3 linked regions of the Homo sapiens genome follow. The protein of the gene in region 2 binds, or shares a complex with, the protein of the main gene of each other region. Each region holds a gene or a part of one and is shown on either strand. Other genes may lie near its edges. A codon is read from its position in the direction of its gene.

Evidence for each region.
Region 1: the proteins of SIKE1 (region 2) and STRN3 are in contact, whole or in part, in a crystal structure (PDB 6AKL), measured with the Homo sapiens proteins. Residues at the interface, in NP_079349.2 of Homo sapiens: Glu96 (codon at 437), His97 (codon at 434), Ala100 (codon at 425), Leu103 (codon at 416), Ile104 (codon at 413), Ser106 (codon at 407), Lys107 (codon at 404); in NP_001077362.1 of Homo sapiens: Arg176, Leu179, Tyr182, Leu183, Val186, Tyr188.
Region 3: the proteins of SIKE1 (region 2) and SLMAP are in contact, whole or in part, in a crystal structure (PDB 6AKM), measured with the Homo sapiens proteins. Residues at the interface, in NP_079349.2 of Homo sapiens: Ile5 (codon at 1,768), Ile8 (codon at 1,759), Leu9 (codon at 1,756), Ala12 (codon at 1,747), Lys13 (codon at 1,744), Leu16 (codon at 1,735), Leu19 (codon at 1,726), Arg20 (codon at 1,723), His22 (codon at 1,717), Asp23 (codon at 1,714), Ala26 (codon at 1,705), Glu27 (codon at 1,702), Leu29 (codon at 1,696), Val30 (codon at 1,693), Ser33 (codon at 1,684), Ala34 (codon at 1,681), Leu36 (codon at 1,675), His37 (codon at 1,672), Val40 (codon at 1,663), Met43 (codon at 1,654), Arg44 (codon at 1,651); in NP_001291349.1 of Homo sapiens: Leu168, Tyr171, Leu172, Glu174, Ala175, Arg178, Glu179, Met181, Leu182, Lys185, Thr188, Leu189, Leu192, Leu193, Ile195, Thr196, Ala199, Ser200, Thr202, Ser203.

Annotation. Positions count from the first base shown.
Region 1 is NC_000014.9:31,019,754-31,023,501, forward strand, and holds part of STRN3 (striatin-3), read right to left. Parts: intron 1-3,748. UniProt on the Homo sapiens protein: Calmodulin-binding scaffolding protein which is the center of the striatin-interacting phosphatase and kinase (STRIPAK) complexes.
Region 2 is NC_000001.11:114,778,828-114,782,575, forward strand, and holds the start of SIKE1 (suppressor of IKBKE 1), read right to left. Parts: upstream 1,859-3,748; 5' UTR 1,781-1,858; coding exon 1,622-1,780; coding exon of another isoform or gene 1,610-1,621; exon of another isoform or gene 1,560-1,609; intron 1,389-1,559; coding exon 1,283-1,388; intron 458-1,282; coding exon 315-457; intron 1-314.
Region 3 is NC_000003.12:57,754,634-57,758,381, reverse strand, and holds the start of SLMAP (sarcolemmal membrane-associated protein), read right to left. Parts: upstream 2,074-3,748; 5' UTR 2,040-2,073; intron 1,835-2,039; 5' UTR 731-1,834; coding exon 533-730; intron 1-532. UniProt on the Homo sapiens protein: Associates with the striatin-interacting phosphatase and kinase (STRIPAK) core complex, forming the extended (SIKE1:SLMAP)STRIPAK complex.

The sequences.
Region 1 (3,748 bases), on a different chromosome or scaffold from region 2:
ATAATATATGCAAAGGGGACTATACAATCCCCCAAAAAATCAAGCATCAGTGAATTAGAATATACTTTAGGATACTGATGTTACCTATATTACTTAGCCTTTTGAATCATTATAGTCCAGTTCACTCATTTTCTTTTTTTTTTTTTTCTTTTTTAGATACAGGGTCTCACTGTTGCCCAGGCTGGTCTCCAACTCCTGGGCTCAAGTGATCCTCCCATTTCAACCTCCCAAAGCGCTGGGATTACAAGCGTGAGACACCACACCTGGCCAGTTCACAGTTTAAATGAAGCTCTTTCCTACTTTAGAACTTCTGCTAAATGCTGTAGCTTCCAACTGGCATGTTCTTTGTACAATTAGGTATTCCCGATACTTCAGATCTAGAAGTATACATTTAGGAACTTTATGAGAATTAAATGTACTGAAGAACCAAAAATAATGTCAACCATATAGAAAGTGTTCAATAGGTCAGGCGCAGTGGCTCATGCCTGTAATCCTAGCACTTTGGGAGGCCAAGGCAGGCGGATTACTTGAGGTCAGGAGTTCAAGACCAGCCTGGCCAACATGGTGAAACTCCATCTCTACAAAAAATACAAAAATTAGCTGGGCGTGTTGGTGGGTGCTTGTAATTCCAGCTACTCAGAAGACTGAGGCATGAGAACTGCCTGAACCCAGGAAGTGGAGGTTGCAGTGAGTTGAGATAGCACCACTGTACTCCAGCCTGAGTGACAGAGCGAAAACTGTCTCTAAAAAAAAAAAAAGAAAGTGCTCAATAAATATTAGGTATTATCTGAAACTCCATTACATATACAGGTTTCCTATCACCATTTATTCTCTCAGCATTCTGCTAATTTGTTGTAACATTTTATTGGCCAGGCATGATGGCTCATGCCTGTAATCCCAATACTTGGACTTTGGGAGGATGAGGTGGGAGAATCATTTGAGCCCAGGAGTTCAAGACCAGCCTGGGCAACAAACTGAGAACCCACCTGAACTAAAAATAAAAACAGCTTGGTGTGATAGTCCATGTCTGTAGTCCCACCTACTCGGGAGGCTGCAGCAGGAGGATCAGTTGAGCTCGGGAGCCTGAGGCTACAGTAAGCCATGTTGGCACCACTGCACTCCAGCCTCGGCAACAGAGTAGGACGCTCTCTTGAAAAAAAAAAAAATTATTTCTAGAGTATAAGCTCCCTGAGGACAAAGTCTGTGTCTCATACATCATTATACACCCAGGATCTAGCACAAAATCGCACTCAAATATCACCAAATAATCATGCTGGAATCAATAAAACTCACAGGCCATACGCAGGGGGAAGGTTCAATGACCTCTATAGTACTAGCGATGGGGAGGATAGTGTTAACTTTAATGTGGCAAGGAATAAAGAATGAGCAAGTGTGTTTTGTCAAGGGAAAGAGGCAGGCACTTGAGATTAACTGAATGGATGTATTGAATTTGAGGTAGAAAAACTAAACGGAAGTTAGAAATACAAGGGACATCTGGACGCCAAAAATCTAGTAGTGGTTAAGAACATGGCCTCTACAGGCAGTCTAAGTTTAAATCCCAGTTCTACTGCCTCCTAGTTGCATAGATTACTTAACCTTTGGGCCTCGATATGCCAGTGTCAGAAAAAATAAAAAAAAGACACCAATTATACCTGTATCAACCTCACTGAGTTGTTTTGAGAATTAAATGAATACTGAATGAATTAAATGAATACTGAAATACTGAAGCACTGAAATAACAATTAGGAAAGAGTAAATAAATGCTAGGTATTATTAAGATGGTACATGGTAGCTAAAAATCTGATTCTGAATATACAGTGAGAACATAAAATAGAACCAGAACCCCACATAATAACAACTGGGAACAAAAGAAAGAAAACATATGAAGAAAAGTGATAAGTGGATGACAGGAAAAACAGAGCGGAAGCAAAAGAAAACAGTTTTGAAGGATTTGTTAACAACAGAGTGTTGGTTAAGTACATACGGTTTATAAGGCCAAAGGATTTGGCAATTTGAAGGTCAATCATGAACAGAAAACATAGTGTTCTACGAAGTGTTTAGAAGGGAGGAGAGAAGAAAGCGAAAAGGCAGACTACAGAGTGGGGTTAATGGGTAGTGGAGGAGCATAAAGAGAATTCTAGATCAGTGGTCCCTAAACTTCATTTCAAGGGCTTCAAAAAGAAACAGGGAATCTGACACAAGGTAGTGGACTCCCTTAATACTATCAATAAAATTTTTTTAACTATTATCACCATCATCTGAAAAAGGAAATGCCTAACAGTAAAAATGTATGAAGGCTAAAAATCCCAGAACAAAGGGAACACCTTTATGAAAAATCACTGTCGGCCGGGCGCGGTGGTTCACGCCTGTAATCCCAGCACTTTGGGAGGCCAAGGTGTGCAGATCACGAGGTCAGGAGATCAAGACCATCCTGGCTAACACGGTGAAACCCCATTTCTACTAAAAATACAAAAAAATTAGCTGGGCGTGGTGGCAGGCACCTGTAGTCCCAGCTACTGGGGAGGCTGAGGCAGGAGAATGCCGTGAACCTGGGAGGCAGAGCTTGCAGTGAGCCAAGATGGTGCCACTGCACTCCAGCCTGGGCGACAGTAGAGCGAGACTCCATCTCAAAAAAAAAAAAAAAGAACATAAACTCTTTGACTACATTTTCTTGTATTAGCTATGTCATATTTTTACACTTGGCAAACAAGCATTTTGTATATACCCAAAATCCACTTACTACATACAAACTATAAAGAAAAATATAAGGACACATTAGCAATATATATAAACTATGCCTTGCAGCAGCATCACAGGCGCTCAATAAAACTTTATTGAAATGTACTCAAGTGGTGTGGGCCACGCAATACTAGATGAAGAATTACAAGTCAGATTCCACTCTATAAAAAAGAGCTAAGACAGTATAACATAATGGTTACAAGAGTGGTAACATGACTACAGGCTTTGGAATCAGACAGACTTGGGTTCAAATCTCAGCTGCAATACTTTATGGCTAGGTGACCTTGGCAAAATGATTTAACCTACCTAAATTTGTCTCCTCACCTGTAAAACAGGAATACTCACCTCATGAGGTTATAGTGCTGATTAAATGGCAGTTTCTAACTTTTAGAAGTCGTAACATGATAGATGTTGCTGCTTAAAGATCCTTAAGTTAGTAGGAGATATTTTGCTTAGACTTACTTGATTTCTTCATTTTTAAGGGGGGAATCTCCTGAATTTTCCATTTTCAGGGTTTTCAAAAGCTGGTCTGGAATAGTAATTTGCAAATCCTAGTGTCTTTTCCATGACAAGATTTTAATGAATCTACTATGAAATTACAAAAAAGAAAAGTGTAGTGTAGTAATTTTTCTCTTTAACAGGCACTACTGTGAAGAAAGAATCACTTGTAGAACTCTAAAAAATATGCAGGCCTCTTATCCTCTGGAGATCTGGATTGATCTAGGGCTTGAAGAAAATGGACTGTCTGTGGAATTTTGGTAATTCATGTTATATAAAAGTTAAGAAACCACTGTCCTATGACCTTACTAACAATGCTTTACCTGAGTCTAAGGTAAGGAAGAATCAGAGACAGAAGAGCTTTAAGATGTGATCCTTTAGTTTGGTTCCAAGTTTCTAAGACAGACCTTTACTCTAAATTCTTTTTACAGAGAACAGAATCATACTGTAAAGTTCCTTTTAATATCTTTCCCAAAGCCAGGGAAAATATTATTCCCCATTAAAATTTTAC
Region 2 (3,748 bases):
CCAGCCTGGGCAACATGGCGAAATGTCATCTCTACCAAAAAACAAACAAACAAACAAACAAACAAACAACCCCACAAAAATTAACAGGGCGTGGTGGTGTGCACCTGTAGTCCCAGCTGCTCCGGAGGCAGAGGTGAGACGATGGCTTGAGCCCAGGAGGCAGAGGTTGCAGTGAGCCGAGATCGTGCCATTACACCACGGCCTGGTCGACAAGAGCCAGACCCTATCTCACAAAGCAAAAAAACAAGCACACAATCTAAAACAATCTCAAGATTTCAATTTGGTTCATTTCGAATTTATTCAAAGTTTCTTACTGCAGAGTGAGACTGGTGAGCTTTCAGGACTGGTTCAGCATCCACCGCTTTTTTAGCAACCATTAACTGTAACATCTGTTTCCGATATTTGCTCATGATAAGTTCCAAAGCATCCTGGTGTTCCTCCAAGGAAATCCATAGCTCTGTCAAAAAATAAAAGAACTTGGCAGTGATGTCTGAGAGACAGTTCCCAAATCCAAAGTCTTAACAGTTGGAATTTTGTAACACTATATAGATAATATGAATCTAAAGTTGTAAATCAATGTTTAAGTCCGCAAAACTGAACAGTTAAAGTCTATGTGAAAGGTAACTTTCTAGGCAGAGAAGCAAAGTCTTGCAGAAACAACAATGGATGTATCATCAGAAGACATGTGTTTGAGTTCAGTTCTGTAACTTGCTTGGTTAATACTCATAAGTAAATCATTTAGCTTCTTCTGAGCCTATTTCTTAACTGCATTGTGGTAGATAAAAATGAAGATATGAGAATACAGTAGAATGATATATGTGAAACCCCTCTGGTAAACAACTATTAATACCACAATCATTAATAATGTACTAATCAAGCCTAAGAATATATACCCTTAGAATAAAATTCTGCTGCTTCACCTTGCACAAACAAGAACATAAACAAAACCTTAAATCTTACCTTCAGTGTTTATATTAATACTTAAACATTAAATTTTAAGTCCATGAGGCTATGAACTCTTTTGTTACACATCTGAGGATGCTTAAAAATAAACCATGCAATAATACCAACTCTACACAGCACCTCTTTGGTAAGCTGCTGCAATATTAGTCAGATGACCTTGAAAAGGGTAATCTAACAAACTTTATTGTTACTGGGCCAGATCAGGAGGACTCTCCTACTAAAAGTACTGACCTGGAAATATATGTACACTTTTGTAAATGTTTAGGGCAATTTTGCAATAACTTTAAACTATTACCAGATATGAAAAGGCCTGACTAACCTCTGTTTTCCTGTTGCAAGTCTCTAATCTGTGTGTTCTCTTGGGACAGCAGAATGTGAGGTTTGTATTTGGACATGTCCTTCATATCGGATGCATCCTCTTGATACTGGACAAATAGAGACAGACTAAGCATGCCTTAAAGAGAACAGCGGCAGATGCAACTGAAGAGGCAGAAGTTAGGGCTCCAGGGCAGGATTCTCAGCCCCGACCCAGGAAAATGGTCTCACCGCCGCCCTCTGAGACCGGGAATAAATTCCAGGCCGAGTTCCCACTTTACCTCGCTCTCCACCCTTCAGTGCCCAGAATCCGAGAGCACTGGACTCCTACCCTCTGCCTGACCTGGTCCGGAAGCGCTGTCCCCGCCTCCCGCATAGCTGCTACCCGCCGGTGCAGCGCCGCCGACTGATCCACCAGCGACTCGGCGGCCGCATCGTGCTCCCGTAGCCTCTCCAGCAGCGTCTTGGCGTCTGTCAGGATCTTCTCGATGGTGCAGCTCATAGCAGCAGCACCACCCCAGCCCCTGCCGGGCTCAGCTACGCGACTCGCTCAGATCTTCTGGGAGTCTGTCTCAGCATTACAGGCGTCATTTCCGGGCACGTTTACAAGGTGTCTTGGTAGGCGCAATGGGCGCCTGCGCAGTGGCAGCCTATTTTGCGGGTTGACCCGCTTTAACCTGCGGCTTCCTTGCAGTCCTTCCTTGCGCGGAGCCCCAGACCTACACTTGCCACGCCGTTGGTTTCCAGTTACCACAGCCTGGTGGTCAGGCTATGATTAGCTGGGCAGTGGGAAGGTCTCCTTTCCCTACTGGTTTTCATTGATGTGGGTTGTTCTTCAGTCACAGTTAGTTTCTTTTTATTTTCATTATTTTTTTCTTTTTTGAGACGGAATCTTGCTCTTGTCCAGGCTGGAGTGCAGTGGCGCGATCTTGGCTCATTGCAACCTCTGCCTCCAGGGTTCAAGCGATTCTCCTGCCTCAGCCTCTCGAGTAGCTGGGATTACAGGCATGCGCCACCACGCCGGCTGATTTTTCTATTTTTAGTAGAAACGGGGTTTCACATGTTGGCCAGGCCGGTTTCGAACTCCTGACCTCAAGTGATCCGCCCGCCTCGGCCTCCCAAAGTGCTGGGATTACAGGTGTGAGCCCCCGCGCCTGGCCTACTTTCATTTAATTTTTTTTAAATTGTGGCAAAATACACATAAAATTTAATATCTCAGCCATTTATAAGTGTACAGTTCAGTTGTACATTCATATTGTTATACAGCCACCATCAGCATCCATCTCTAGAACTCTTTCATCTTGCAGTACTGAAGTTCTGTACTCATTAAACAATAATTCCTCATTCTTCCTTATCCCCAGCTCCTGGCAGCCACCATTCTACTTTGTGTCTCTACAAATCTGACTATTCTGGGTACCTGACATGAGTGAAATCATACAGCATTTGTATTTATATAACTGCCTTATTTCACTTAGTGTAATGTCCACGAGTTTCATCCATATAGTAGCATATGTTAGAATTTCCTTCCTTTTTAAGGCTGAATAATATATATATACCACGTTTTGTTTATCCATTCATCCGTGGATGGACAGTTGGGTTGCTTCCACCTTTTGCTATTGTCAATAATGCTGCTATTGCAACTGGCTCACGTCTGGCTGCTTGCTGCCTAGAGGCCAAAAACATGAGAAGTGACCTGTGGTGAAAGCTTTACTAATCAAATGCTCGCAGATGGGGAATGGCTAGGCTCATGCCTTCAAAACAGCATTCCACTTTTTTTTTTTTTTTGGTCAAGGTATCCCAGAGACAGTATCAGTGTCCAAACTTTAATTTTGTCCCATATCAATGCCAGGGTGGTGTGCTACCTGCCCTGAGTCCATCATGTCCCTCCTGCGGCCAACTGACTTAGAGTCAAAAGAGTTACAGCCAATTAAACGTTCTAGGTCAGATGGGAAGGAGGTGGGCAGGCACTCATTAACCTTAAAACCCCTCTTAAGCAATGTTAAGAGGCAAAAACCAAAAGGCAAGGGTTACAAAATTGACTTATCTATAAATTCTATGCATTGAGCTGCTGTAATCTTGGCTTGTTGCAATTAGCTATACAAAATGCAAGCATTTTGTTTAGCTGTTTTGGCATCTGTGTCATCCTTGATTTGTAGGGTCTGAACTAATTTTAGCTCTCAATACTGGCCCTTACAACATTACGTTATAGTCTCTAGGCATGGCGGGATTGAAGAGTTTCAACTTTTGTAGGTAAAACAAAACAGAAAGAATTAACAACATTTCAAACACAAAGGTCATAAACCCTGCCTAGTTTTGAGAATAACAGGAAAAGAAGTTCATAGGTAGCTAAACACTTAAATTATTTAGTATCAAGGCACAGAATAAATTATATTAATTCAGATAGAGGCAGAATTGTTAAATGAATCTTAATATTTTTGAACACAAGACTGTCCCTGTGTCTCATGAAAGC
Region 3 (3,748 bases), on a different chromosome or scaffold from region 2:
TCCTCCAAGGGCAAGTATGTATCAAACCTTTCAAAAATCTTAGGTTTATATCAGCAATTATCCTTACTAGAAAGGTCCTGATCTGAACTCACCTAAAGCTATGTGTTAACTACATTTCACCACTAAGACACTTGAGCCCCGGGATAATAATGGCCACGGATTCCCCGAATTGCTTCGAGAACTGCTGCTTGCTTAATAAAGCGCTGAACTGTGAATTCACCTTTCTAAACAGACTAAAAGCAAGACGCCAAGTTTCACTATCTAGTTTGGGATTTCACTGGGAATGACCACGTTATCAAGATGCCATAGCCCTCCTGAGGCTTTTAATTACAATACCTTCTCTGTTTTCCATTCAACCACCTCAATCAAATTTCCACTAGAACCAGGCACACAAACAGTTGATTCGTGGCTTTGCGCAAAGCCTCCTCTGGATGCAAACCCTGGGATCCTGCATACATTAGTCCTCTCAGGGAGGGCAAAAGGGGAAAAAAAGTTTGTTAAACAATGCCGCTGGACAATGTGGTGACATTACCTTGCCCGTCTTGTGATCAAACCAGACGAGAGCGTGGTTCCTTGATAGCACTTTGCAATCAAAAGTGGCATTATTCTGCGCTGGTCGACAGCGGGCCACTGAGCGGCCGATTTTGATGGGCTCGTCCAGGTAGACATGACGCTCCTGAAACGGGTGCGAGTTCGGGCGGCAAGTGAAGATGGCCAAGGCTGACGGCATCGAGGATAGACTGGGGGTGTCTCTCCTACCAGGGACAAAGAGGAGTTCCTCCGGATCCGGACTGCCCTTCACAAGCCTATGCCCCTATCCCACCCAAAATTTTAAATTAACACAAACTGCACATTGTCTAAGCATAACCAGTGAACATCAACTCTTCACTTGGGTGGGAAGACAAGCCAGCGCAAGCCCCATCACCTCCTTTAAAACGCTGCAACGCCGTGATCACAAAAAGTCCCCAACTGGCAGCTTTCAGTCCATCTTCTTCTCTGGGAAGAAAAGGCTCAAACATCGGGCAGCTTCGGCCAAGAAAACTCCTGGAACACAGTTTGGGGACTGGAGGTATCCAAGCAGATGAGTCACACGCCAATTCTTGTGTTTGGTTTGAGATCGCGGCCGCTTTTCCCCCTTGGTGGCGGAAACGTTGCAGCACTGCAGCATGAATGAAGGGTCGGTTCGGCGCGGCCAGGAAAGTCCTTTTGGGCCGAAGGAAGGTGTGGCTGGGCACCTCTGGGCAGCCACCGCCAGTCCTCGCCCGGAGTGAAGGGGCGAGAGGTGACGGAGACGGAGGGGCTCTAGACGGCCGGCGGGACAGTCTGCATCGCCCCTGCTGAGCGGAGGCCGCCCCGGGAAGGGGGACGCGGTCCCCGGCCTGGCACGATCCGAGACGGCGGTGGCTGAGGTTCTCCGCGCGAGGCGTGGAGGCCGGCGGGGCGCGGGCAGTGGCCAAGTCGGGACTCCTGGGCACCTGGCGAGCGTCCCCGCGACCAGGGCGGGGACCCGGCTCCGCAGGCCGGTGCGGACCGAGCGAGGCGCGACACCGGGAGGCTCGAGTTCCCAGGCGGCAGGAAGTTGGTCCCCGGACGCCTAGGCTTCTGGGCCGCCGCTCAGCACATGGGCCGCCTCCCCTCAGGGTCGCCCCCGCGAGGGTCGCATCTCAGGGACGGCAGCCGCAGCTCCCGGCGGACGAGAAGGTGGGGGAGGGAGACTGGCCCGGAGGTTGGGGAGAGGCCTTGAGGCCCCGGGCTGGATCCGCCGCAGCCTCCACCGATCGCGGCCGATGGGGCAAGCTCAAGCTGCGCCCGACGAGGCAGGAAACTTTCCGACCTGGTGGGGAAAACATCAAAACAAACGGCCGTCAGGCGCCTCAGCCCGCCCGCCTCAGCCGTCGCCCCCTCCAGCCAGACCCCCGCCAGCCCACACCGCTAGGCACGACCTCCGCCGACCTCTCCGCAAGCAGGCTACGAGGATTTGGAGCCAGGACGCCACGACGGGTCCTACCTCCCTAGCCGCCACCACCGCCTCAGCTTACCTTGCCAGCGCCGGCCGCCATAGTGACTCTGACTGAAACCTACCCGGTGCACCGCCACGGGAACGCGCACCCTTCAAGGGCCCTCCTACCCCCTCTCCCGCGCCGTAGTCCAGGAATGTCACGTGAACGACGCCACGGAAGCCGTGTTGGTAGAGGGCAGAAAAAAGGGCAAGGTAATTTTTAACGGGCCTCCAGGCGCCATCTTAGTTAAGGGCTGGAAGCTTCAAACCTCGGGACAACCTTAACGACCATTTTGGTTAAGGGCAAGAACAATTTGCGCCGTAGAAGGTTTTTCAAACAAACAGTGCCACCTTCTTATTTTATCTACTTAGCAAGGGGGTGCCAACTTTTACTAAATTTTATTCTGTTTAATTCTCGATGAAAATACTAGCGAGCAAAAGAACAGACCCAGCCAAAGGAGATGGTCATTAGCAGCCATCTTAGCTGTGGGCAACACAGTCACCCGCAGCTACCTTAAGTGTGAGCCGCCAAACTCCCTGAAGTCTTAGGATTTGTGCACCTAACAGAAGGACCATTCTCCCCTCTGCTAAATTCGTTATGTTTTCTTCCCGGAAAAAAAAAATCTTAGTTCCCGCATTCCATTTCGAATGACAGTCTTTCTCACTGAACCTATTATGTGCCCCCAGGGCTCCTGCGCGGATTCTTCCACAGAAGGAGCGTCCAGAAAGTTTAAAATCATGTTTCTTCCAAAGAGAGATTGAATAATTTCCAAAGTGAAAAAAGAGGGTATTTCCCCCACTTACAATATCAAGATGAGGAGTCATTGGTCTAAAGAAGGAAGACTTTGCAAGGGCTAAATGAAAACTTTAAGAAAAAATAGTGAGAAGGAGACTTACTCATTTAGAATCAAAGGTGACTTCATTCTTCAGATTCCTGCAATAACAGGCTCCACCACTGTGTGACCTTAAGCAAGTTTCTAAACTTTTTCAAGCCTCTTTTTTCTCATGGATGACATGTTAATAATAGTTAATTCACTTGATGTGGTGAGACTTCAAAATGTTAATCCATGTTGTTCAATAAAGAGTAGCAATTAGGCCGGGCGCGGTGGCTCACGCCTGTAATCCCAGCACTTTGGGGGGGCCGAGGCAGGCGGATCACCTGAGGTCGGGAGTTTGAGACCAGCCTGACCAACATGGAGAAACCCCGTCTCTACTAAAAATACATAATTAGCCGGGCGTGGTGGCGCATGCCTGTAATCCCAGCTACTTGGGAGGCTGAGGCAGGAGAATCACTTGAACCCGGGAGGCGGAGGTTGCGGTGAGCCAAGATCGCGCCATTGCAGTCCAGCCTGGGCAACAAGAGTGAAACTGTCTCTCCAAAAAAAAAAAAAAAAAGAAAGAAAGAAAGAAAAAGTAGCAGTTATTCATCTCAATACTTATATAGACAGTTTGGCCGTGTCCTAGGTTTTTGCTGGGCCCTGGGGACACATAACTGAACCAAACTTCAATTCCTGCCTTCTGAGATCATAACGGTATTGTGGGTTAGAAATGAGGGTAGGGAGTGACAAACATGAAATTGATGTAATCAGGGCTAAGATAGAGGCAGGCACTAGCTGCCCAAGGGGTCAGGGATGGTCTGGGAGAAGTAACTGAACTGAATGAAGGAAGATAGGAAAACCACAATAAATATGGTATTCGCTGAATGGTTTCATGAATTTCCACAAACACGGATAGCAAGGAAAAGAAGGA